Linked DNA regions of Homo sapiens: all the other regions are reported to be linked to region 2. Evidence: microRNA targets listed by miRTarBase, many of them from high-throughput screens and not tested one by one. Region 2 holds a microRNA gene; each other region holds the end of a gene's coding sequence.

Region 1 (4,090 bases), not on the chromosome of region 2:
CCAGGACCTCCGCCCTCAGACCCAGGAGCCCAGGCCCCCAGCCTCTCCTCCTTCAGACCCAGGGGTCTAGTCCTGCAGCCCCTCCTCCCTCAGACCCAGGATTCCTGGGACCCAGCCCCTCCTCCCTCAGATCCAGGAGTCTAGTCCTCCAGCTCCTCCTCCCTCAGACCCAGGATTCCCGGGCCCCAGTACCTCCTCCCTCAGACCCAGGACTCCAGGCCCCCAGCCCCTCCTTCCTGGACCCAGGACTCCAGGCCCCCAGCCCCTCCTTCCTGATCCAGCAGTCCAGGCCCCAGCCCCTTCTTCCTGGACCCAGGAGTTGAAGCCTCCATCGACTCCCCCTCAACTTTGAGACTGTAGAGTCAGGTCCCTAAGTCCACCCCAGGGGCTGGAAACCTGGAGTTCAGGGCCCAGACTTTGGGGTCCGGGAGCTGATGGCCCCTCTCTCCCGGCTCCGCCCGCAGACTCTGGCTCCTCCGACTACACCCGGGGGAACCTAGTCCGCCTGGGGCTGGCCGGGCTGGTCCTCATCTCCCTGGGCGCGCTGGTCACTTTTGACTGGCGCAGTCAGAACCGCGCTCCTGCTGGTATCCGCCCCTGAGCCCCAGGAGCACTGCAGCCCGAGACTTCCAACCTGAGTGGCGGAGAAGCTGGGACCCTGGGCTGGACTGTCCTTTCCTGCAGCCCCACAGTCCTGCTGGCTGAGCTCCGCGGAACGGTCCTTAGACCCCGCTGTGCCCTGTGCTGTAGCTTCTTTCCAGGCCTTTCCCAAGGAGTAGCTGAAAGGAAGACGCGATTAGTGGTTAAGACTTCCAAGCCAGAAGACAGAGGGTTCGAATCCCAGCACTGCCGTCTACTCACTGTAGTAGTAGCAGCTACAGAAAGGTAGTAGTGAGACGTGAAGCCAGCTGGACTTCCTGGGTTGAATGGGGACCTGGAGAACTTTTCTGTCTTACAAGAGGATTGTAAAATGGACCAATCAGCACTCTGTAAGATGGACCAATCAGCGCTCTGTAAAATGGACCAATCAGCAGGACACGGGCGGGGACAATAAGGGAATAAAAGCTGGCGAGCGCGGCACCCCACCAGAGTCTGCTTCCACGTTGTGGGAGCTTTGTTCTCTTGCTCTACACAATAAATCTTGCTGCTGCTAACTCTTTAGGTCCGTGCCATCTTTAAGCGCTGTAACACTCACCACGAAGGTCCCTGGCTCCATTCTTAAAGTCAGCGAGACCACAAACCCACAGGAAGGAACCAACTCTGGACACGGTAGCAGCATTCAGAAAGCGCCCTTCCCCAACTCTCTCTTGCCTTGACGGTAAAATGGATGCACTGATAAAACCCACTTCATAGGATTGTTGTAGGAGTCAGTGGGTAATACACATAAAACATTTAAAGCAGTAACTGGCCCGTAGTAAGTGTTCAATAAATGTTAGCTACCCTGTAACACCGATTTCTACCAGACTCAGTGCCGAAAGGAAGGTCTCACCTTTTTGCCATCAAGCATAATCAAGCACGACTTTTTCTTTCTTTCTTTCTTTCTTTTTTTTGAGAGAAGATCTCACTCCACCCAGGCTGGAGTGCAGTGGCGTGATCTCGGTTCACTGCAACATCCGCCTCCCGGGTTCAAGTGATTCTCGTGCCTCAGTCTCCTGAGTAGCTGGGATTACAGGTGTGCGCCATCACGCCCAGCTAATTTTTGTATTTTTAGTAGAGATGGAGTTTTGCCAAATTGGCCAGGGTGGTCTCGAACTCCTGACCTCAAGTGATCCACCTGCCTCGGCCTCCCGAATAGCTGGGATTACAGGTGCGTACCACCATGTCCGGCTAATGTTTGTATTTTTAGTAGAGACGGGGTTTCACCATGTTGACCAGACTGGTCTTGAACTCCTGACCTCAAGTGATCCGCCCGCCTCAAGAACTGAATTTTGAAGTCTAATTAGCCACCTGGGGGCGCTAACGTGTTGAAAAGACGGGAGGAGAGACTGAGCGGGTCTTCCGGGGTTTGATCTCAGTGCCAGAGGGGCCTTGGTAGAACATATGTGGGACAACCTCCCCGGCATATGTGGCTGTGGGAAATAATAACAATTTTAAAAAAGGAATAAGCCGGGGGTGCTGGCTCACACCTGTGATCCTAGCACTTTGGGAGGCTGAGGCAGGTGGATCACGAAGTCAGAAGTTCGAGACCAGCCTGGACAACATGGTAAAACCCCGTCTCTACTAAAAATACAAAAATTAGCCGGGCATGGTGGCGGGCGCCTGTAATCCCAGCTACTCGGGAGGCTGAGGCAGGAGAATTGCTTGAACCCAGGAGGCGGAGGTTGTAGTGAGCCGAGATTGCATCACTGCACACTCCAGCCTGGGTGACAGAGCAAAACTCCGTCTCAAAAAAAAAAAAAAAAAAAAAAGAATAAAGAAGAGACGCAGGTTATAAGGAAGGCACCAGACCTGGATGAGGCTGTGATGTCATCAAATCCAGTCTTCCCACTTTATAAATGGGAAAATGGTGGAAAGAGAGGTGATATTAAGTTTACCTAAACATGTACAGGAAGTCAGTGGCACATCAGGGAGTCTTTTTTTTTCCTTTTTCCCTCTTTTTTTATTTTATTTTATTTTATTTTATTTTTTTTGAGGTGGACTTTCGCTCTTGTTGCCCAGGCTGGAGTGCAATGGCGCCATCTCGGCTCACCACAACCTCCGCCTCCCAGGTTCAAGTGATTCTCCTGCCTCAGCCTCCCGAGTAGCTGGGATTACAGGTGTGAGCCACCACACCTGGCTAATTTTGTATTTTGAGTAGAAACAGGGTTTCTCTGTGTAGGTCAGGCTGGCCTCGAACTCCCAAACTCAGGTGATCCGCCCGCCTCAGCCTCCCAAAGTGCTGGGATTACAGGCATGAGCCACCGTGCCCGGCCCTCTTTTTTTTAAAATGTATTTCCACCCAAAGCAGAGAAAAAGAAGTCTTGGCCGAGTTTGTACTTCAACTTAACTCCATGTATTCATCCATTCAATCACTCCTTCATTCACCATTCACTCATTCATGTCTAGCATTGATTCTCATCCTTATTCATTTCTATTGAGCATCTCTTTTTCCTTTGCTTTCATTTGTACATTTGTCTATTTCATTTGTCCTTATCCATCATGCATTCATTCATATTTCCATCCATTTACCCATCCATTTCTTCATTAACCAGTTTTTAATCCACTGAACTATTTATTCATTCAATATCCATCTATCTACCTGTGCATTTATCTATCCAATAAGCTTGAGATTTTTTTTCTTTTTGAGATGGAGTCTTGCTCTGTTTCCCAGGTTGGAGTGCAGTGTTGTGATCTCAGCTCACTACAATCTCCACCTCCCGGGTTCAAACGATTCTCCTGCCTCAGCCTCCCAAGTAGCTGGGATTACAGGCACCTGCCACCATGCCCGGCTAATTTTGTGTTTTTAGTAGAGATGGGGTTTCACCATGTTGGCCAGGCTGTTCTCGAACGCTTGACCTAAAGTGATCCATCTGCCCACCTTGGTCTCCCTTTAAAGTGCTGGGATTACAAGCGTGAGCCACTGCACCCAGCTGAGATTTCTTCATAGCAGTTTACCAGTGACCAGTGTTCAATGAATGCTTATTGAGTGAGTTGTAGTCACAATGCTTATTTCATTTTCTACCACTGAACATCTTTTCATACTGGTCATTTTGCTGGGTGATCCACATAGGTTATTTCTGATCTTTATCAACAGCCCCCAAGTCACACAGAAGTGCTTAACTTGGGACTTGTCTGTGTGGTTAGACTGCTGGGTCTTTTCCCCCTGTTCCTGCCTCTTAAAGCAATGACAACACTGCCATCACCACGCCTGGCCAATTTATTATTACTATTATTATTATTATTTTTTTTTGAGATGGAGTCTCGCTCTGTTGCCAGGCTGTAGTGCAATGACGCGATCTCGGCTCACTGCAACCTCCGCCTCCTGGGTTCAAGCGATTCTCCTGCCTCGGCCTCCCGAGTAGCTGGGATTACAGGCGTGTGCCACCACCACGCCCAGCTAACTTTTGTATTTTTAGTAGAGATGGGGTTTCACCATGTTGGCCAGGATGGT
Region 2 (4,090 bases):
CAAGTCCTCTTCCTTACTCCTATCCCTATCTCTGTGCTCCAGCAAAGAGGTAGTTCCACTTACCTAAGGCTAACCCTCCACCTGCATGTGTTCTAGAGCCATAAATTTCACCCTTCCAGCTTCACCTGCATCATCTTTCAAGATCATCTTCCATCTATTATCATCTCTCTCTTTCTCACATCTACAATGACTCCCTTCTCAATTCCTTCTGCCCCATGGTCTGCAAACACACTCAATTTTTTTCTCATGTTAAATGATTCACTGTAAGGCGCTGGATAAGTGGTTTTAACTTGTATTCTGGTTGTCACATCTACAATCAGAAAAGCTTCTCACAAAATAATGATTAAGTACAATAAATAAGATAAAGAAAATATGAACCTGGTGAGAGGTGAACAGGACGGTGGAGGATTACCTGTCAGTGCAGGTAAGGGGATAGCTGGAGTAAAGTTGAAAGGGGAAAACTTTAAATATCAGCCACAGGAGCAAACCTCAGACTGTGAGGATGAGGTTTCTGTTCAGACAATGAGCACTCTGGTCCAACCCAGGGAGCAATTAGCAGCAATTACAGTAGCAGCAACAGCCATGCAACATCAGCAAGTAGCTAAGACCAAAATGCAGGCATAGAAATGAAGTATTTCATAGAAAACAGAGTAGCAAATATGACATATGAGGCACTTGTGCTGCTACTCCCCCTTCTCCGACCCTCAGCAGACATCACTAAATAGTTATAAATGTCTTTCACACTGAGATAAGACCTGGTTTCAGAATCTTGTTATAAAACATAATCAGGGCAGGCATTATCAATCAATTGGAGATGGTACTTGAGATGAAGTGTATTTGCTATCATTGCACTACACAGAAAAGTCCTCAACAAAAGAATTAGAAGACAGGAATAAGCTTCAGGAGTAAGCATTCTGAAGAGAGCTTGGACGTTGTTGGCAACTGGCGGGGACAAGCTGAGCCCATGGAGATCACAGAGCAGGCGCCCAATTAATGTCTGTTGATGATTCATTTTTTCATTCAACAAACATTTAATGAGGCCTACAATGTGCACCGGATTAGGCACTGTGAATACAAAGATGAGTAAGGCACTGTCCTTGCCCTTAAGGAATTTAAAGTCTGGTAGACGAGAGCCATAGACACGGACAATGATAATACAACCTGCTAAGTGCTAGGACACTTAGCAGGTTGTATTATATCCATCCGAGTAGGATTTCTTCAGAGGAGCACCACTCCAGGTTGCTGCTGGATCCATGAAGTCCTCCCAGGCACCAGGGTCTGCTGTTGTTTTTGTCACGTGCTGGGTGTCCCAAGATCTAACAATAATAGCTGTAATTAATGTATAGAGTGCCTATGACAAACACTTTACAAATATCTTCATGGAAACTCTGAAAATTAATAGTTATATTAGAGGAAGAAACTGAAGTTCAACAAGTTTAAGTCACACAGCCAGCAAGCAGTTGAATTAGGTTTCAAATCCAGTTTTGACAAAGTCTAATGCATTTTTCTGTTTTCAGGATAACCTTTATGCAGGTGTAATACAACAACTTTTCAACAGCTTTCTATTTGGAACTAAAAGCAAAGGCAATAGATTAGTCACTAGATCATGGAGTGATTAATTTGGTTTCCCACTCTACCTGGCAGAGAAATAAAAGGTGAAATGACCTCACACTTACATACCATTGAAAACCTTCAAGTCAGTTACTGTTTTTCTTTCTCAACCCTAACATCGTCACTGATCATTCAAAATATAAGTACCTCTAGTCAAATCTCTTCTTTTAATACTTGTCATAGTCAACACCATTATCAGCAACAACAGTTGACACAGCATTTAGCTGTATATTCCAGGCCTGTTCTAAGCAATTTACATAATTAGTCCCTTTAAGTACTTTTTACCCCCATCATTGAAAATAAATATTATTCCTATTTTACATAAGAGAAAACAGAGTCCTGGGGAAGTGAAGAATCATGCTCAAGACCACATTGCTAAGTGTGAGAGCAGATTTGAGCCCAGGCTACCTGGTCCCAAGACCCAAACTCTCACTTTACATAGCTCTGCTGCACTGCTCAGGGCCTCCTTTCCCAACTCTTGATGGCAAGTTACACAAGGCCCCCTGAAAAACCCAGTCCTACTTACATAAAATCTCATCACTAACCATTCTGGTCATAGAAAGCCATTCTCTAAATCCCAAATATCAATACTCAGAGCCTTAATTGGAAAATTTCCCGAAGAACATTGAGTTTAGAATATACCTTTGCAAAAAGAGAAAATAAACACTCGATATGTTTAGGTTTTTAATTATTGAATTTTTTTTTTACTTGCAGATATAGTCATAAACGTTTTAAGATCCATAAGCAAACTAAAGCAATTATGCCAATAATGACTAAGGCCACTGCTTCCTCAATTGAGTCTTTGATATAAAAGCCTTCACTTTTGGTTAATTACAAAAAAAAAAAAAAAAAAAAAAAAAAAAACCGTGGGAGATATGTGACAGTGAGAGTAGGCCTGCTACTGATGAGAAGGACCAGCAACTTAGCAACACCATAAAATGTCTGCTGCAATTCAGGTGTCTAGGTGTCTCCCTGAGAATCAACATTTCATATACAGCTGTTCCCAGAAAACAATCTTGCACAATCTGTACAGTCAAGTTATGATCTAAAAGGAGTTAATTGCAACATTCATCCAAAGAATATGACAGTATTTTTCATCAAGGTCTTTTTCTATAAGTTTTTCTATAACTTTTCCTATAAGTTCTATTATGTCTATACAGTCATGTGCTGCCTAACAATGTTTAGGACAATGATGAACCTCATATATGACAGTTGTCCCACAGTTGTCCCACCACAAAATCATATCATATTTTTACTGTAGCTTTTCTATGTTTATATATGTTTAGGTACACAAATACTTACCATTCTGTTATAATTGCCTACAGTATTCAGTACAGTCATATGCTGTACAGGTTTGTAGCCTAGGTGTGTAATAGGCTATACCATTTAGAGAGGTTTGTGTTAATATACTCTATGAAGTTCACATGACAAAATCGCCTAACAATACACTTCTCAGAACATATCCCCATTGCTAAGCAATGCATGACTAAATTTTTATAACTTCCTAAGAGGTTATCCCCTCTTCGCCACTCCCACTCCTTTCAGCCCTACATCATTTCTCATCTTAGCCACCACAGTATCCTTCTAACTCATCTCCCTGTCCAGATTTGAAAACATTCCTGAACACACCCCACACTACTGCCAGTGATCATCTAAAAGCATCCCTTTCTGAAAACACTTATAATGAAATCCAAATCCCATGGCATACCATATAAAGTTCTATTCCTGGCCTACATTTCCAACCTAATTTAGAGAACTATTTGTAGTTCCCCAAACTCATCATACTACTTCCAATGTCCATGCTTTTGCTTGGAAAGCCTTTCCCTGTTTTTCACCTAGTCAAAAGGTGACTTTACTTCTTTAAAGACTCAACTCATATACCAGGTACTCTGAGCTCTGTCATCTCCAGACTCTGTAAAATGATTTCTCTTTGAACTCCAGAGTATCTTATACATACCTCCATTGTAGAGCATACCATATTGTTGTAATTATATGTGTACATAGATGTTGATCTCTCTCACTAGACTGAGAACTCCTTGAGGACGGGGATGGTGTCTAATTCATCTCCATATCCCCACTACCCAGCACAGTGCCTGGCAGCTCAAATGACAGCAGAGAGGAGAGATGCTGAATATGCAGGAGTGAGAATAAAGCAATGTTCTTGAGTAGTGGTACAATACAAATATGCTGAATGAATTGAAGCTATAGAAAAACATTTTGGGGCTCAATGTTGTAAAGAGGTCTCAAAAGAAGGGACAAGCTAACTCAAGGAGGAGTCCCCAGTTACCAAGTAAACTTACTCAGAAGTTAAAAGACCATTTGTTGGGTATGTTATCCAGGGACTTGAACTGGGGTTAGTTTAAAATAATCTATTTGGGATAGGAGACTTTTAAGGTCCTCCCATACTGGAGCTTCTAAATCTATGATCAGTGCCACAGTCAAGAGAGCCATCATTCTGAGAGCCTATGTCACAGAGTGA
Region 3 (4,090 bases), not on the chromosome of region 2:
TCAACCAGCTAAGGATTTCACGTGACTTTCAGGAAATAAATGACCCACAATTACCCAGTGAATTCCATGTAGTGTTAAGAATAATTGCAGGTAACTTCTTCATGTAATTACCATGAAATTGAGTATAATTTAGAGAATAAAATCAGGAACATACTCCTAATTGCTTTTTTGATCCATTAAGCATCATTCTCAATCTCTCACTAAATGCTTGGGTGCCTCAAACTAGTTTTTGTTTATAGGCTAGATTTTAAAACACTGTTTTATTATAACTCTGTTAATGTATCTCTACATAGCACTTTTAAGGCAGATGTGAAGAGATCAACTGGAATAAGCTGCCAACCATTTATATACAATATAAATATTTTGCCCAAGAATGCAGTTTTACAAGCTTAAATCACTGAGCTCTAAACCCATCAAACTTTTCTATGATAAACCAGTGACTTTTTAATGTATTCTATCAGTTTTTACTTATTAGACATGGACAGGTCTGTTTTCATATAAATGAAAATCAGGTCTAAAAGATGGCCTTGATAAGAGTTAATACTGTCTGTCAGCTTCAGCACAGAGGTAGGCATTTAAGTCTGAATTCCTTTGCTTGAATAAGAGTGATACATTCTTCAATCAATCAAACTGGCCACATGAGGTCTCTGCCATTACCAAAATAAAATGCAAATGCACTTAAGAGGTGTCTTGAAAATCAGATTATTTCTCATGAAGTACAAGCACTGAAAATAATGTTGGATATCTACTTTAATTTCTGGTTGAAAACAATGTATTATACTAGGAAAAAGGATAAATGAGGTTGAAGCTGGAGATAATACAAATGAGAAAACTGTATCCCACTTAATTTATGTGTCTAAAGTGTTAGCCAGGTGTTTCAATTAGGGATTCACCTAGGCTAGAATAATTGTTAGGTAGTAAAGCATATACACTTGGCTATATAAACAATGTACCTAAATACCAAATTCGATTATTTAAATTATAATCTATGCTGGAATTCTTGGAAATACATGTAGCTCCTCACTAAATTGTGACATGTTGTGAGCAACATGTCAATCTTGGTCATGGATATATGAAGCACTACATTCTCTGCAATCATTTCCAGCAGTGCTCCGATTAAAGCCCCACAGTACAGAGTCTGACTTTTCAATTATCTCCTCAGTACATCTATCTCACTTTGGCAAGAGCAAATGGCTCGCTATGATTCAACCCCATTTAAACATGGCGGTGAGCAAAAAATTTCAGAAATGAAGGGGGAAAAATTCTACCTAAATAAAGTGAGGGAAGATGAAATTAAAACAAACATGTTTTCCAAAAAGACTAGTAGGGAAACATTTAGGGAAAAACAAAAATAAAATTACTGAGGTCAAGAACTTAGTTTCCTCCAAATAACATTTAAGGAACTGATGAAAAAAATTACAAAGCACTGTAAAAATAAATGGTGGAGGGCAGCAGAATTTCACTTGCTTAATCTTTTTAAAGTGCCAGAATTCACACTAAGCAAAACTAGAGCTTTTAAATTTAGGAAGTCTTATTTAGCAAGCTCAAGTTCTTCCTTGTCAATCTTCTGATTTGCACCTGTCTCCACAAAAGATTTAACAGGCTATATTAGTGATATTAACATTTTATGTTCTTGTGTCACTCAGGGGAATCGTTTTATGAAACTGTTGAAGTATGTAAGCAAACTGTATTTACTTGACTGGATAGCCACTTGGTTATTCTGCAGCTACACAAGTTGGTACTTGCTGAATTATATAGCATACCTTTCACAAGTAAAGGTACAGATCAAATTGCTTAAGAAATCACTGTTGACTGCTTTGGGATGCTAGGAAAGCCAAGGAGCCCATGATTCAAGCCTAGAACTAGCAAAAATATATTTCTATCCATCCCCAAAATAAGTAAAACCATGTACTAAAGACAGAATAAAGTGGGACCTCAATGTTTCATTCCTATACATGGTACTTTTTGAAAGTGCAGGTTAATTTCTTCTTTGGTGAGGCCTAATCTTGCTACTCAGGGACATACTTGATTCCATAAAGCTATTCACTCTTAAGAGCCACTGGATCGACCGACACTTCTTAATATGAATCTGCTTTAGCATGGTGGCAGTCAGCTTCATACAACATGCTTTTTGAGCAAATGTAAGCACTAGCCAGATGTAGGTTTCCCACATTGCATTCCACAGCACATCATCAGAAGACATGTACCTCTATCTCTCACACAAAAAATTTGACCCATGGAAAAGTCCATCTGCCATACCTTGTTTTTTAATGAAAAAATATCTGAACCATTCACAAAGTCTGGTCTATGTGCTTAATGAAATGCCTGTCAGTTGTATACCACTGGACAACCACAAACCATTTCTCTTCAAAATAACAATATCCACAAGCAGATATAGAGAGACAATGTGTATAAAAATAAATGAAAGCAAAGCTCTGGAAACTCAGCCTCCTCTCTCAAATGAAAATACTACAGAGATAGCACAAGATAAACGGGAGCCCTGGTTCTGCAGAGCTCTTCTGGACGAAAGAGTCATTTTCTCCTAAAATTGCTATTAAGATATTATTCACTACTAGATCCCTCCTGCTGGTCACTTTTAGAATGGCTCTTAAAAAGGTTCTGAACTATTGTCTCCTCAGTTTAAGGTTTCTGTGACTCAAAGTCAGATGCTATTGTAATATCTACTATAAAATATATCATTATAGAAATATTATATACCAATCTCAGATAGGTGCTTGGGTCAATCTCAGGTTTCATTTTTAGTTCTATGGCCAAGAGTGCAAACTTGAGACCTCAGTTCTGCCTACTGTTTAATGTAACACAAGACAAGTCAATACAGACACAGATATCACCTTAACATACATCAACTGTCCTAGAGAACTATACACTTGTTAAGAATGAAGTAAAGAGGTGAACAAGTGACACCATTTACACGCAGTTGTGTGATGGGAGGCAAAGTGAAATAGGAAGGGAAAAGGCAGGCCAAATGACCAACAGCAACAACATTCAAAATACTTGTAGTGCTGAATCTGTTAATAGTGCTTATTTCCCCCAATTAAAAAAAAAAGAAATAAAAATCTGAAAAGGGTAAACTGCCTAATTTTTCTTTTATACTCATTAATTCTTAAAAGATAAAGTAAGAAAAAATATATATATATATATATTTAACTGGAAAGTATACCAATTTCACTTTATTAGCCTAATTTAGGAATAGGATGAGGAGAGCGGGGTTGAGGTCAGGCATGAAGGAAGAGGGTAAAAACTTGTGATGGTTAAGATCCCTTCAGAACTCTGGTGCAGTCCTCAATCACTGCAGCTTTACTGTCAGTCAGTGGAGCTGCAATCCAAAAGACGGAAAATCGACTCCTGTTTTCCATTTCTGTGTCCAGTGACTCTTCAGTTACAGTGTGATGAGGTCTACCAGGTTGCCTTTAGGAGGAGTCATGCTGTCAGGAAAGAAATTTACTAAGGTGTCAAAGAGCTGAGTTCTTTGAGCATAGGTGTGATCCACATCAGAAAAGCCTGGTGAAGAAGATACAAAGAAACATCCATTGTGTTTAAAACATGTAACAGAAAAACTAGTTGAGACCAGCAGCAATGTATTTTATAATGGAGAAATCAAATCAGGCTTCAAAACCAGGCAGACACTACTGATCTGACCCCAGTTCTACTACCTGGCTGTGGTGTGATCTTAGATAAATTAGTCAGACTTTCTGGCTTTCAGACTTTGCTTCCTCAGCTGTAAGTATGTGATAATCCTGTTTACTTCATACAGTTATTGTGCAGATTAAATGTAGTTACATGAAAAGCGTCTAGCAGAAGGACTGGCACTTTAGTTACAAATAATACTGATCTCTCTTTTTTTCCTTATTAGGTCTTTTCTCTGCTGGTCCACTGAGGAAATTCCACTTGTCTTTTCTGACTTGTTAATGCTTCTGAACCACTAAAAAAGTTTTTTAGTAACAAAAATATAATAAAATCAAAATGAAAGAGGTCTTTAGAAATTAGTCTAAAATCATTAATGTCTCTGAGACAGCTGGAAGTAGTCTCAGGGAACTGAGTGGTAACAGAGACGACTGAGGGAGATACA
Region 4 (4,090 bases), not on the chromosome of region 2:
CATATCGCAGACAATAGCTGCAATTGAAATCATCACTTGATTAGCTGATAATAGTCATTCTCCAAGATTTAGCAAATTTCTGTGCAGGCTAAACAGATATAATAGCAGCCTCTATCCTCAAACTTTCAGCTTTTTTTTTTTTTTTTTTTTTTTTTTTTTGAGACAGGGTCTCCCTTTGTTGTCCAAACTGGAGTGCAGTGGCTATTCATGGGCATGATTAGAGCATACTGCAGTCTTGAACTCAGGAGCTCAAGCTATTCTCCCAGCTCAGTTTACCGAATAGCTGGAACCATAGGCCCACCACACCACACCCAGCTAATCTTTCAGGATTTTTGATGATGACCTCTCCAATTTTCCTGGAGATGTAGCATTGTTGTGGTTTACTATCCTGGCTTCTACTTGGCACTTGTAATGGTCAGGGAAGCTAAGTGGAAATTCTGTCAATAGTCAAGTATGTCTATCTCAAATATACACGTGGGAACAAAAAATAAGCACAGGGTAGGTCCAGGGACTTACTGAGCTGCCTGAGAAATGACAACCTGGGGTTCAAATTCCATTTATGACCTGACCTAAAAGGAAGCCAATTGTCAAAGAAATGTAGAGTCACAGCGACATCAGAGTATCAATGGTGAATTTGGAGCTGACAGCACAGTCACAGACTTAAGTCTCATAGTTCACCAATTCTCTTGTTGTTTAATATGTATTTAACCCATCCATTGACTTTTTAATTTCAATTTTTCTTTATAACTATATATTTCGGACAATTCTCAATTATCTGCCCAATTTTTACTTTACTTTAAATGTTAATAGAGACAGGATCTTACTATGTTGCCCAGGCTGGAGTGCAGTGGCTACTTACAAGTACCCATAACAGCACACTACAGCCTTGAATTTCTGGCCTCAAGTAATCCTCCTGCTTCAGCCTCCCAAATAGCTAGGATTATAGGCACATGCCACAGCACCCAGCTGCCCAATTTTTATACAACACCTTGCCATTTTACCATTTTTGTTACTCTTTTACTTCATTACACATATTAAACAGTCATTTCAAATTCTATATCTGATAACCCTGGATCTGCCATCTCTGTAGAGCTTATTTTACAATTTGTTTCTGGCATCTTTTTTGGCAGAATAGGTTAGTTTCTTGGCTCCATCTCTGAAGACCAGACTTCCACTTCCATCTCCCAATCAGAATCATGTTTCATGGTAAGCTCTAACTGCAGGCTGTAAGCCTCCATAGTTGAGGAAGATGAGAGTTCTGGGGATGACTGTTCAAAGAGTACCAGCATGCAACAGAGAAAGGCAAACGAGTTCTAAGTTGCTGCTTATGGGGTTGGTGGCAAAAGACAAGAAGGTTACAGAACTCTGTTTTGGGGCAGGAGTTATGCAAGGGAACCCAGACCTATCTATACTCTTCTGGCTCTTCTATCTCCAAAATGTAACAGGAACCCTTACTCTCAGGAAGTGGACTTTAGTAGTGATGCCCTGTGATTGCTCTCCAAATAAACCTCAGTCACTGTGTTGCAGGCATAAAACACAGGGGATCCTGAAGGCAAGGCCCTTTGTTGTAGAACTACAGCTGCCACCTATATCTTGCTCTTCAGGCAACTTCACACACTTAAGAGTAGCAATCAGCCAACAAATTCGAAATACATAAAGTAAGATTCAAGCTGACACAGGGAAAGAAAAAATATCACTTAGTCAAAATTTATTTCAAGGCCTGAAAACATTCAGACTAATCAAAATGGTACTACTGTAACTTCTTATAATACATAATATAAAAGTTTTTGAAAGATATAGACACAATTAACCCCTAAACAACACACTATCTGATTCTCAAAAGCAATGGCTATTTAACAAGATGTAAAAGGACAATAACATATCAAAGAACTTTCACACACCTAAAGATAGCATTTAGCAGCAAGTTAGTCAGACAAAACAAACACAAATATTTTCACATTTCCTATGTTTGTTTTTAACTTTACTTCATAAAGCCACTGATAATTGAGGTTTCTTTCAAGTATAAGATTTCTAAAATTAAAAACTGTTTTTGACATATTTTTATAAAGAAATAAAAAGCAAAACGCAATCCAACTATTTATATGAGTCCCTCTTCTCCAACAGCTTTAGATGTTTTTCTGAGTACTTTTTACACAGAATATTTTTATTAAAATCAGTTCTAATTCATTTATGCAGATTAGGGGAAAATGATTCATAATAAATTAACTTTAAAATTACCTTCTATCTGCTTCTACCTCTATCCCCCCATCACCACCAAATCTGTTGCTACAGTGAACTGTAGCAATGTACTGTTTGAGGGGGCCCAAAGCATCTGTAATCTTAATTTCCCACATATTAGTTAGTAGGAGGAAAAATCCACAGTATGAAGGCTATTTAACTAAAACTTTATGCTTTTCCCTCAAGCTGTAAGTACTCTTTAGCATTAAATTACATCGTGCATATACAACTACACCCATTTAGATTTGCCTTGGAATATAATTTCAAGGCCTTAAATATTAAAAATAATTTTATAACTATTTCATAGTTTAATTGGCTCTTAAATAGTTTTGCTAGGGAGGAAACATTTTGTGTTCTTTAAGAAATTGATATGTGTAAATGTGTTCACTTAAATCTTGAGAAAACCTAAGGATGAAGTCTGTTGTTTTGTTTTTCCTAAAAAAGGAAAAAAGAACCAAAGAAAAATGTTGAAGAACAAGAATATTTACCATTAAAAAGAAGAAACATTATCCAACAAAAAGGAGACATATAGATTTGAAAACACTTATTTTACTGTCTTCAACAACAACAACAAACAGATAGGCAGGGGAAGTCCAGAGGACTCAGAATTGAAGCAGCTCTATACAATAATGAAGGTGGTACAATGATGTGACTGCAAAGAAAATGACTAAAACAAAACTTTACAAACATCTTCATGTTTGTAATGTATTAATGCACAAAATATCAAAAATAGAAAGTCTGAGTTTCTTCCCCGCAGGTTTATGATAAACTATCAACCTTCTATTTAATGCATTTCCTTTTTTTTTATTTATAGAGATGGAGTCTCGCTATGTTGCCCAGGCTGGTCTTGAACTCATGAGCTCAAGCAATCCTCCCACCTCGGCCTCCCAAAGTGCTGGGATTACCGGTGTGAGCCACTGCACTTGGCCTTAATGCATTTACTTTTATAAGCCTTCTCTGTTTAGAAGTACACACTACACAAGTACATACATGCTGGCATTTTACCATGAAAATTTTAGTTTTCATCTCAAACTAGTGACTTGCCTTTTTACCCATACTTATACACATGTAATACCTTTCTAGTGGTACATTTTAATCAATATATATTTTTTAAATCTTATTTTTAACTCAATCTTTTTAGTGCTATGATATGATGGGCTTAATTTAATAGTTGAAGCATGATATGATAACAACATTGTACGGTTTAAACTAATTCACAACTGTAGTAAAGTGTTTGATTTTCAGTATATAACCAAGATGATGCTGAACAGTAATAAACACAGAAACACTAGAAAACAGTGAATGAATAAATAATACAATTTTTCATCAGTGGCCATTCATTATTTTGCTTTTAGAAACCTGGAAGAAATTGTCTTCTTTGATTTTCAAATGTTCTGGTAACTCTAGTCGTTTCTTAGCTTCTTCAATATCACCTTGAATTGCTGAAATAAGTGACTCTGCAGAGAGAATATACCAGGTAAAAATGATGAAAAACCATTAACATACTTTTTACTACTACTCTGTTTAGCCAATCCTAAAAACTCACAGGCTGGCAGTATCTCTGCACAGGGTAGATACCCAATAAATGTTTGTTCCATCACTCCTTCCAGGCCTAAGTCAATGGTACACAAAAGATATGTCCCTAGGCCGGGGGCAGTGGCTCATGCCTGTAATCCCAGCACTTTGGGAAGCTGAGGCGGGCAGATCACCTGAAGTCCGGAGTTCGAGACCAGCCTGGCCAGCATGGTGAAACCTGACTCTACTAAAACTACAAAAATTAGCGGGGTGTGATGGTGGGTGCCTGTAATCCCAGCTACTCAGGAAGCTGAGGCAGGAGAATCGCTTGAACCTG
Region 5 (4,090 bases), not on the chromosome of region 2:
CTGAGATGGAAGGACTGCCTGAAGCTGGGAGTTTGAGATCATCTGGGCAACATAGTAAGATCCCCCCCCCACCTTTTTTTTTTTTTTTTAAACTTGAGACAGGGTATCATACTGTTGCCTAGGCTAGAATGGAGTGGCGCCATCACAGCTCGCTGCAGCCTCAACCTCTTGGGCTCAAGCAATCCTCCTGCCTCAGCCTCCCTGAGTAGCTAAGACTACAGGCACGTGCCACCACACTTGGCTAATTTTTGTATTTTTTGCAGAGATGGTGTCCCACTTTGTTGCCCAGGCTGGTTTTGAACTCTTGGGCTCAAGCAATCCTCCTGCCTTGGCCTACCAAAGTGTTTTTTTAATTTTTCTTTTTAAAATTAGCCAGTTATGATGATGCACACCTGTAGTCCCAGCTACTTGGGAGGCTGAGGTGGGAGGATCCCTTGAGCCCTAGAGTTGGAGGCTGCAGTGAGCTATGATCCTGCCACTGCACTCCAGCCTGGGGGTCAGAGAAAGACCCTGCCTCTGAAAAAAAAAAGGGCTGGGCATGGTGGCTCATGCCTGTAATCCCAGCACTTTGGGAGGCCAAGGCGGGAGGATGGCTTTGAAGCCAGGAGTTTGAGACCAGCCCAGGCAAGACCCCATCTCTATAAAAATAATTTAAAAAAGAAAAAAAAATATGAAAGAAACAGCTCAATAAAGTTGAGAAAGTATGTTTACAGATGCATGTAGAAAGTTATTTAATAAAAATATTTCACCATTTAAACTTGGATTCCCCAGAGTGTCATTCAAAATACTGAAATGGAAAGATCAACAAAATTAATGAATAAAGAAAGTTTATTGGAGATTATTAAAGAAAAATGATAAAATAAGGCAAGTCCTAGATCAGATTTAAATACAATATTTAGAAAGATGGCTATATAATTTTAGCTAGGAAAATCAGTAAAAGGGAATATCCTTAAAAGTGGGAGGGGTTCATATAACCTTTTAAAATAGCAAGTTGAGGTGTAAAAGCATCACCAACAATAGTATGTACCTTAATCTTTACACAATTGGACAGTGAGGAGCAAAGTGGGAGATTCTACCAATGCCACTTACAGAACAGATTTTCAAGTTAATAAGTCATAAAATCCTAATGTAGTCATAGGCTAGGATGGTGACGACAATCTGCAATTACTGGTCAGAGTGAAGCGAAGTGACAGGTCAGATTTTTCAGCATATCAAGTTACTACTTAGGTATGCTTACAAAACTTTGTTAAATAAAGTTGGGTATTGTTAGTATACCCTTTACTAAATGGTGAGGATAGCTGCCAAAATAATCAAAAGGCTAATTATGTGTTAACTCTCATTTATTTTGGATTGCAGACATACTCTTGCCCTTTATCTATCTACACAATTCCTTATTACCAGCAGCTGGAATCCAGTTGTGCAATTATGGCAACTGGACAGACCTGAGCCGTCAGTTATGAGATAGATGACCTTTTAATTGTACTAGCAAACAATTTATAGACTGGAAGATTGTTTTTCGGGAATACCAGTTTAACTGAGACTTTAATTATGGTCCAAGAGCTTTTATGAGAAATTCAATCAAAAATTTTGCTTTAGAAAAATTTTATAGGTATATGTTACTAATACTGAGAATGGTTGAATTAAAAGAAATTGAGACTGAACAGTACATTTCCACTGGAAACATAAAGCTCTGAATGCTGTGACTGAGTGAACAAAGGAATAGTTCTAAATTTTCTTTTGCAACATACATAACAAAAAGATTTCAAACTGAAAGACAACAGGTTTAACTGAATGACAGATTTAACTACATAGTTTTCATTCTATAAATAAATAACTTGTGAAATATCCCTGAAGTCAGTGGACAAATGGGGAAACCATTATTTTTGTCATATTCTACAATTCTGAGAACTAGGATTAGAAATTCTAGGACTTTAAATCTTTGTGCTACAGAGAACAATATTATCCACTAAAATCAGGAAGTGGCTTCCTGAAGGGTATTCATTCTCTGAGGTCATACATTTTTTTTTTCTTTATTCAAAACACTTAGTAAAGGAAAAGGACACAAGGAAATTCTGATTAAAGTCTTCTCCTGCTCTGTTTGCAATTATACATGCTTTCAAAGTCATTTGAAAGTAAGACCATTTCCTTTGGCAGGTATCTTGTATAAAGTAACTTTACAACATATGTTTCTTGAACAGAAACTTTACACCACTGTCATTATGTTACCTATAGAGACAAAACTACTAACACAAGTAATATGGGCTTACAATTATAACACAAACCTGTGAGAGGGCATGATAAAATTAAATTTTGATTGCCTTCTTTTATTATTATCACTACTACTGTCTGCTCACAAATTCTGTGGCCAGAGTCCATTTCAAATCCTTCTAAGAGTCCACTTCATGAGTTAAACATATACATATAGAACAAAGCAGGTATACTGTAATTTTTAAAAGTAAATCTGTTTTACATAGTACAGCTGGAGGCAGTTTAATATAATCAAAAGTTATAGCTCTAAAAAATATGATAGTAGAATATTAAACCTCAGGTTACGTTAGGTTTGTTAACTCTTGATTTGCTTTGAGTAATTTTTTTCTTCAAAAGCCACATTCCAAGAAGATGCCTTAAGTATCAATGAGCTATATTTGAAGTACATCAACTCTGTTTAAAGCTGTCCAACAATAAGGACACAAGCAGTAAAATATCTGAAGCATGAAACATGTAATGTTGATGACTAATGTTCTAGATCATCAGGAATAAGATTAACGAAGAGCAAAGTAAATCTAAAACAAGGAAAGGGAAGATACATTTATTAAAAATAAAAATAGTACACAATCTCTGATAACAAAAAAAGCATTTAGGGTCAAAAGACATCCAACATACATTGTAACAATGCACACATATTAATTAAAAAAAAGACCCATGAAATAATTTTTAAAAAACTTTCAAAAGGAAAAAACTATTTTGGCTTCCTTCTGCTGAAATTCGCCTATAAACATACCACGCCAGCTAGACCAGCATTCCCTTTCACGTGGTCTGTACAACATAGTACTGCACAATGTGAGCAATTACTTTGATGAACACATTGTTTTTGAATAAAATTGTTGGTTCTGTATGGATGATCCAGACATAAATCCATGGTTCCATTTCACAAAAATATTCATAGGCTGGAAGAGCAGTGACAACCATTTTCCAAAATCTTCAGTTTTAACAAAAGGCGCAGAATAAACTACTAAATCTAGATGTTTTCACATTATTTTGCATGAGTGTCAAATACTATGTAAAAATTAACGTAAAATCTTAAGTTGGCCAAAACTAGTGTCTCTAAAGATCAAAATTCTTCACTCTTTTAGCATGGCTGATAAATCTTTTCTGCCTTTGTCACTAATGCTTGTCAAACCAAAGAACTTTGCAAAAGAATATGCACTGCTGAAGGAAGACAGTACCAAAAATACCATATTGAACTTCGGTCTTAAGACACACACAGTTCCTGTTGGATACTGGACTGTGAAAGTTTATTATCTTCAGTCTTTTCATGTCCTGGAGCATGGCAAGTAGTCTTCCGCTTAAATAACCGAAGACTCAATCGAAGTAATTCATTGTCTACCATTGGAGCACTCGTGTAAGCTTGTTTTATGGTGCCCTATTTGAAGAAAACAAAAACAAACTTTAAAAAAGATGTACATTATTAGTAGGAAAGATGGGCAGGTTAACCTCTACCCAAAATATCAAAGTTATAAGAGTATTTCATTTTGGATATTAAATTAGCTTTATTGGATTTCAAAGCAAAATTAGAAAATGTGTTTGGGCTCAATGAATCTTTGAAAAGAAACTTTTAGAGGGCACCTAGTTTAACCTCTTGCTTAAAGTAGGAATCCTCTCAACAATTTCTGACAGGTAATCAACCGGTTTTTACTTTATCATTTCCAATGACAAAACAAACAAAAAACACACTGCACGTTCTGTTGTTGAATGGCACTATTTCTTCCATGTGATGGAATAAAAGCTCTTCTATGGTGCTACACTGTAATTCAATCTTACCTTTACTTGACAATCCTTCAGTTCTATGAAGGTAAGTGCCATGAGTTCC
Region 6 (4,090 bases), not on the chromosome of region 2:
AAAAAAAGTTAGCCATTATTCTAGAAATCCCTTTTTACTTCCTGTGTAGCAAACAGGATCTTCCTCCACTGGGCAGCCCTTCAAATATTTGAAGACTTCTATTTGAAGCTTTCTCTTGCCAGCCTTTTTTTTCTAGCAACACACTGGTTTGTCAATGGCCCTCTTTAAAAATTACATTTAGAACAACACACTACTAAGTGGTTACACTTAGGCAGAACATAGAACTGCTGTATTTGTAATCTATTACCAAGGTTCTACTACCCTTATGGAGCTCCTAGAAAGATGCCTAGAACATAGCAGGCTCTTAATAAATATTTATAAATGGACATCTTGAGGGCTAAGATTCTATTTTTTTGCAGCCAACTGGAAGTCCCAGTTTGTTCTCATGTGAATTATTGCTAATATAAATCTCTAACATTGTTCCTCAAACTAGTTCAAGATCTAAGCAATTTTTTAGTGTGAGAGTGCTCCAGTGTTTTAGTCAATTCAAGTTACAGACACTTTGAATATTATTTAGCTCTTCCTGTGTTACTGTTGATAAATGGGTTTTTTACATGTTTACCCGAGTTGGGTTTTTTCTTTTTACAATAAAACATAGCCCTTGGGCTTATCACTAGAGAACAGAGATTTCTCTAACATAAATGCGCTAACCAACACTAAGTACAAGTGTTCAGTTTGATTCTACCAAATGCTACTATTTTTTTCTCATTATTTTTTAACCAGAGCCATTTGCATGGAAAAAATGCTACGATTAACTGACCCGTAATTTTCCTCTTATCTGTGATGACTTAGCAGGTGAGAGAGAGGAAAGTAGCTCCTGTAATCTGGGAACTGGCCTGACACAGCCAGGCTTCAGAGCTGTTAGGGCTGACCTGGTGCTCACAGGTAGCCAATGAGTTCTCTTGGACACAAACAATCTCACAAAACACCAGCATCAGACAAGGTCACTCAGTGACTGCGATGAAGTGAGACAAAAAACAAAATCACTACACAATTTTGTTTAAGCACAAAACAAGGTCAGTGTGCAAACCACAAAACAGCAAACATCCCCTTTCCCAGCTAGTGAGTGACTTCATCATCGACTGTGCTTAGGTTCACTTGTCTGCCCTTCTTCTAGACAAGCTACCCAATTATCCTGGATTCCCTTAACAGCACCCAATCCAAAAGAACACCCACTTTCTTGAATCTTCCCCAAAATCACTTAACCAAAGTCTAAGTTCTCTAAGTCGTTCCTAACACCCTCATGCTGAGACACACCACGTTATCCCCAATGGTGAGCCCTCCCCCTCACTGCAATGAGCATTAAACCCAACTTGCTCAATTACCAGGTGTATTCTTGGTGGTCTTCAGCTGGAGTAAATACATACAAGACATACAATGTCTAAAATTTCCCAAATCTACCTCTTTGGAGATAACCTGGCAAGGAGGAAATAAAGTCAGTCAGGATTTGACTGAGAATTCATGTTGGTATCTATGGTTACATTCTTCTCTAAATGCTCTTAAACCATCTCTTTTAATAGTCTAGAATTGCCGGGCACGGTGGTTCATGCCTGTAATCCCAGCACTTTGGGAGGCTGAGGCGGGCGGATCACGAGAGATAGAGACCATTCTGGCCAACACGATGAAACCCCGTCTCTACTAAAAATAAAAAAATTAGCCGGGCGTGGTGGCGGGCGCCTGTAGTCTCAGCTACTCGGGAGGCTGACGCAAGAGAATCGCTTGAACCCAGGAGGCGCAGGTTACAGTGAACCGAGATTGCGCCACTGCACTCCGGTCTGGTGACTGGGCAAGACTCCATCTCAAAAAAAAAAAAAAAAATTGTGTCCCAAAAAACATTAAGCTTATCAATGTGTTGTTTCTAAAATCCACAATGTTAGCCCACTTTTAGTCTTTAGGCTTTTTTTTTTAATGACTGGCCTTGACCTAGCCCACCATCTCCAATCCCAGATGTGACCTGAGTGATCAACCAGACAAGAAAGCAAGAGGTAGCAGGAGACATGATGAGGGGGAACACAATCCAGGATCACTCTCTACCCCCAAATCTACTGTCCCATTAGACTAGACACCTGAGTTGTTTTCCCTACATCAGCCGTGAGCTGAGGAGGAACTGAGGTTTGACTATTGGGGCCCCTGGCCTTACTGACTTAAGTAGATTTAAAACTTCTGGTCCTATGTGGAGACAGAGGAAAGGGATGGACCCTGAGGCTTGTGTCCCTAGAAGGACTCTCTTTTCCCAGACCTCCCAAGCCTTGAAGGCTTCAGGAACTGGCCACTGAAGGGGTGGGGTAGGAGGGACATTAACTGCCATCAACTGAGCGGCAACTGCCATCAACTCAATGGCCATCAACTCCACCTGTCCTGCTCTGTTTGAATAAGGATCTGTCAACTATGTAACATCCCATCCGCATTTCAGCAAATACACTCTCCTTACTGCCTGCCCTGCTAAATGACCCTAGGAGCCCTGGTTACTGAGGCAACCTGGGAATAGCACATACAGACAGAGACCAGAAACAGATGGGACTATTTTTAAAACTAGACTGGGTGGCTCCAAAGCTTTTACCCCATAAAGTGCCTTCCCCAAAGCCCCATTTGGTCTTGTTCTGGGTCCCTACCCTTCTTCACTGGCTTCTATCCATCTTACCAAAGCTATGTGAGGCTGGGGTCTTTATCCCATTTTGGCATGAGATCTATTTACTGCTCCCATCTTCCACACAGAATAGCTAAGCAAGTTTTCACTGCCTCCATTTGTTAAAAATAATTGTTCTTTTATTTCTTTGGAAAGTAGTGGGCCCTGCCCTATGGATTTTCAGGTCAAACTAGGGTAATGAATGCTCCCCTAGTCTTTGGGCTGGAGCACTATGGTCCCAGCTTTCCCAGGGCCCAGAAGCAATTCCTGTATTGTCCAACCCAAGCAACTAGGACCCAAATTGTCTGAAGGCTCCTATCAGGCCTTCTCTCCTGACCACCCACTTCCCAATCTTTCCTGGCTTTCCCTCTGGGCAGGGTATTTTTTTCTTCTAAAACCAGTGCTGGAACCTGTGCTGTGCAGAAGAGAGGACAAGACGAGGGATGTTCCCAAATTCCCATAAGAGGACACAGCCCCTCAGTCAGTCCTTCCTCTCTGCTGGCTTCAGTCTGCACTCCTCTGCAAGCCCCCACTGTGAGGCTTGAAGATGGACAAGAGGACCCTCATAAAAGGGAGGTGAGAGAAAACACACCATCCCAACCCCTCCTCAGGACATACTCCTTGTAGTCTCTTGTCCTAGTTCTCAAGGGAGCCCTTCAGACAGGGATGGGGAAGGCTAGGTGAGTGGGCAAGGGCCCCCTGACCCCAGCCCTGCGAGGCTATACCAGGGGAGTGTCCATTAGCCCCATCAGTGTGGCATGGCCGTGATGCGCATGCTCTGGGAAGCGATAGGGTAAGTCACCATGGGAGTGGTGGTGTGGCTCATTGTGATTCCTGCCAAGGGTTGGGCCATCGATACAGCCACAGGGGCCACAGGAGCCACAGATACAGCCACAGGAGCCATGGAGACAGGTGGAGGTGCCATTCCCTGGGCAATTGTTTGAGCCAGGGCAGCTGACAGTGGCGTGATCTCTGGGGTCAAGTGTGGGGGTGGGGGTGGTGGAGCAGCAGGAGGTGCAGCATTAGTTGGGGGAGCAGCTGGAGCTCCAGCAGGGGCCACCAGTTCTTGCTGGGACACTGGACGAGGCTGTAGAGCCTGGCTGCTGAGAGTAGTGTGAGTCTGGGCAATGCCATGGTTAAAAGTGGCAACAGTGCCCACAGTGGGGGCCAGAGTCTGCTCAGTCGCTGGTGCAGTGGAGCTCAGGGTTATGACCTTGGCCTGATTGCGGAACTGAGCATTTTGTTCCAGTAGTACCTCATTGGTGGCCAGCAGGTTGCTGACCTGCTTCTTTAACTCCTCTACCCGCTTCCTGAGCATGGCATTCTCCTCCTCTAGCAGTCTGCACTCCACCCCTCGCGGTGGAGCCAAACTATATTCATATGACTCAAAATGAGGGCCATCAGGGGGGCAGCATCCACCTCGCCGGCGTTTTGGGCCTGGCTCATGGTCCTCAAAGCCCCTGT

The links. The annotated mature microRNA hsa-miR-374b-3p reads CUUAGCAGGUUGUAUUAUCAUU and lies in region 2 at 1,148-1,169, opposite strand. An mRNA with a match to its seed (bases 2 to 7 or 8) in the 3' UTR can be bound and repressed. Matches are read on the target gene's strand: a 7mer-m8 pairs with bases 2 to 8, a 7mer-A1 pairs with bases 2 to 7 and ends in A, and an 8mer does both.
Region 1: miRTarBase lists OSCAR as a target of hsa-miR-374b-3p. Seed matches in the 3' UTR shown: 7mer-m8 at 1,148-1,154.
Region 3: miRTarBase lists MKLN1 as a target of hsa-miR-374b-3p. Seed matches in the 3' UTR shown: 7mer-A1 at 2,094-2,100 and 7mer-A1 at 1,535-1,541.
Region 4: the mRNA of RFK is a reported target of hsa-miR-374b-3p. Seed matches in the 3' UTR shown: 7mer-A1 at 2,437-2,443 and 8mer at 1,914-1,921.
Region 5: the mRNA of ZC3H13 is a reported target of hsa-miR-374b-3p. Seed matches in the 3' UTR shown: 7mer-A1 at 3,349-3,355.
Region 6: miRTarBase lists ZC3H10 as a target of hsa-miR-374b-3p. Seed matches in the 3' UTR shown: 7mer-m8 at 789-795.

The regions. Positions count from the first base shown.
Region 1 is chr19:54,091,732-54,095,821 of GRCh38, reverse strand. It overlaps OSCAR (osteoclast associated Ig-like receptor), which reads left to right. Exons shown (of 5, transcript NM_133169.6): 5 at 465-1,154. The coding sequence ends at 601. Among named protein-coding and RNA genes, the nearest start is that of OSCAR, 7.0 kb to the left of the region's middle.
Region 2 is chrX:74,217,410-74,221,499 of GRCh38, forward strand. MIR374B (microRNA 374b) reads right to left here and starts at 1,209; the gene lies at 1,138-1,209. All of the region lies in intron 5 of FTX (FTX transcript, XIST regulator), which reads right to left. MIR421 (microRNA 421) reads right to left here and starts at 1,052; the gene lies at 968-1,052. It overlaps MIR374C (microRNA 374c), which reads left to right and starts at 1,140; the gene lies at 1,140-1,209.
Region 3 is chr7:131,487,039-131,491,128 of GRCh38, reverse strand. It overlaps MKLN1 (muskelin 1), which reads right to left. Exons shown (of 18, transcript NM_013255.5): 18 at 1-3,522. The coding sequence ends at 3,401. Among named protein-coding and RNA genes, the nearest start is that of PODXL, 68 kb to the left of the region's middle.
Region 4 is chr9:76,383,835-76,387,924 of GRCh38, forward strand. RFK (riboflavin kinase) reads right to left here. Exons shown (of 4, transcript NM_018339.6): 4 at 1,692-3,695. The coding sequence ends at 3,565. Among named protein-coding and RNA genes, the nearest start is that of RFK, 8.5 kb to the right of the region's middle.
Region 5 is chr13:45,953,655-45,957,744 of GRCh38, forward strand. ZC3H13 (zinc finger CCCH-type containing 13) reads right to left here. Exons shown (of 19, transcript NM_001330564.2): 19 at 811-3,643. The coding sequence ends at 3,473. Among named protein-coding and RNA genes, the nearest start is that of ZC3H13, 97 kb to the right of the region's middle.
Region 6 is chr12:56,121,152-56,125,241 of GRCh38, reverse strand. ZC3H10 (zinc finger CCCH-type containing 10) reads right to left here. Exons shown (of 3, transcript NM_032786.3): 3 at 1-4,090. The coding sequence ends at 3,375. Among named protein-coding and RNA genes, the nearest start is that of ZC3H10, 4.9 kb to the right of the region's middle. RefSeq lists an enhancer at 3,090-4,087.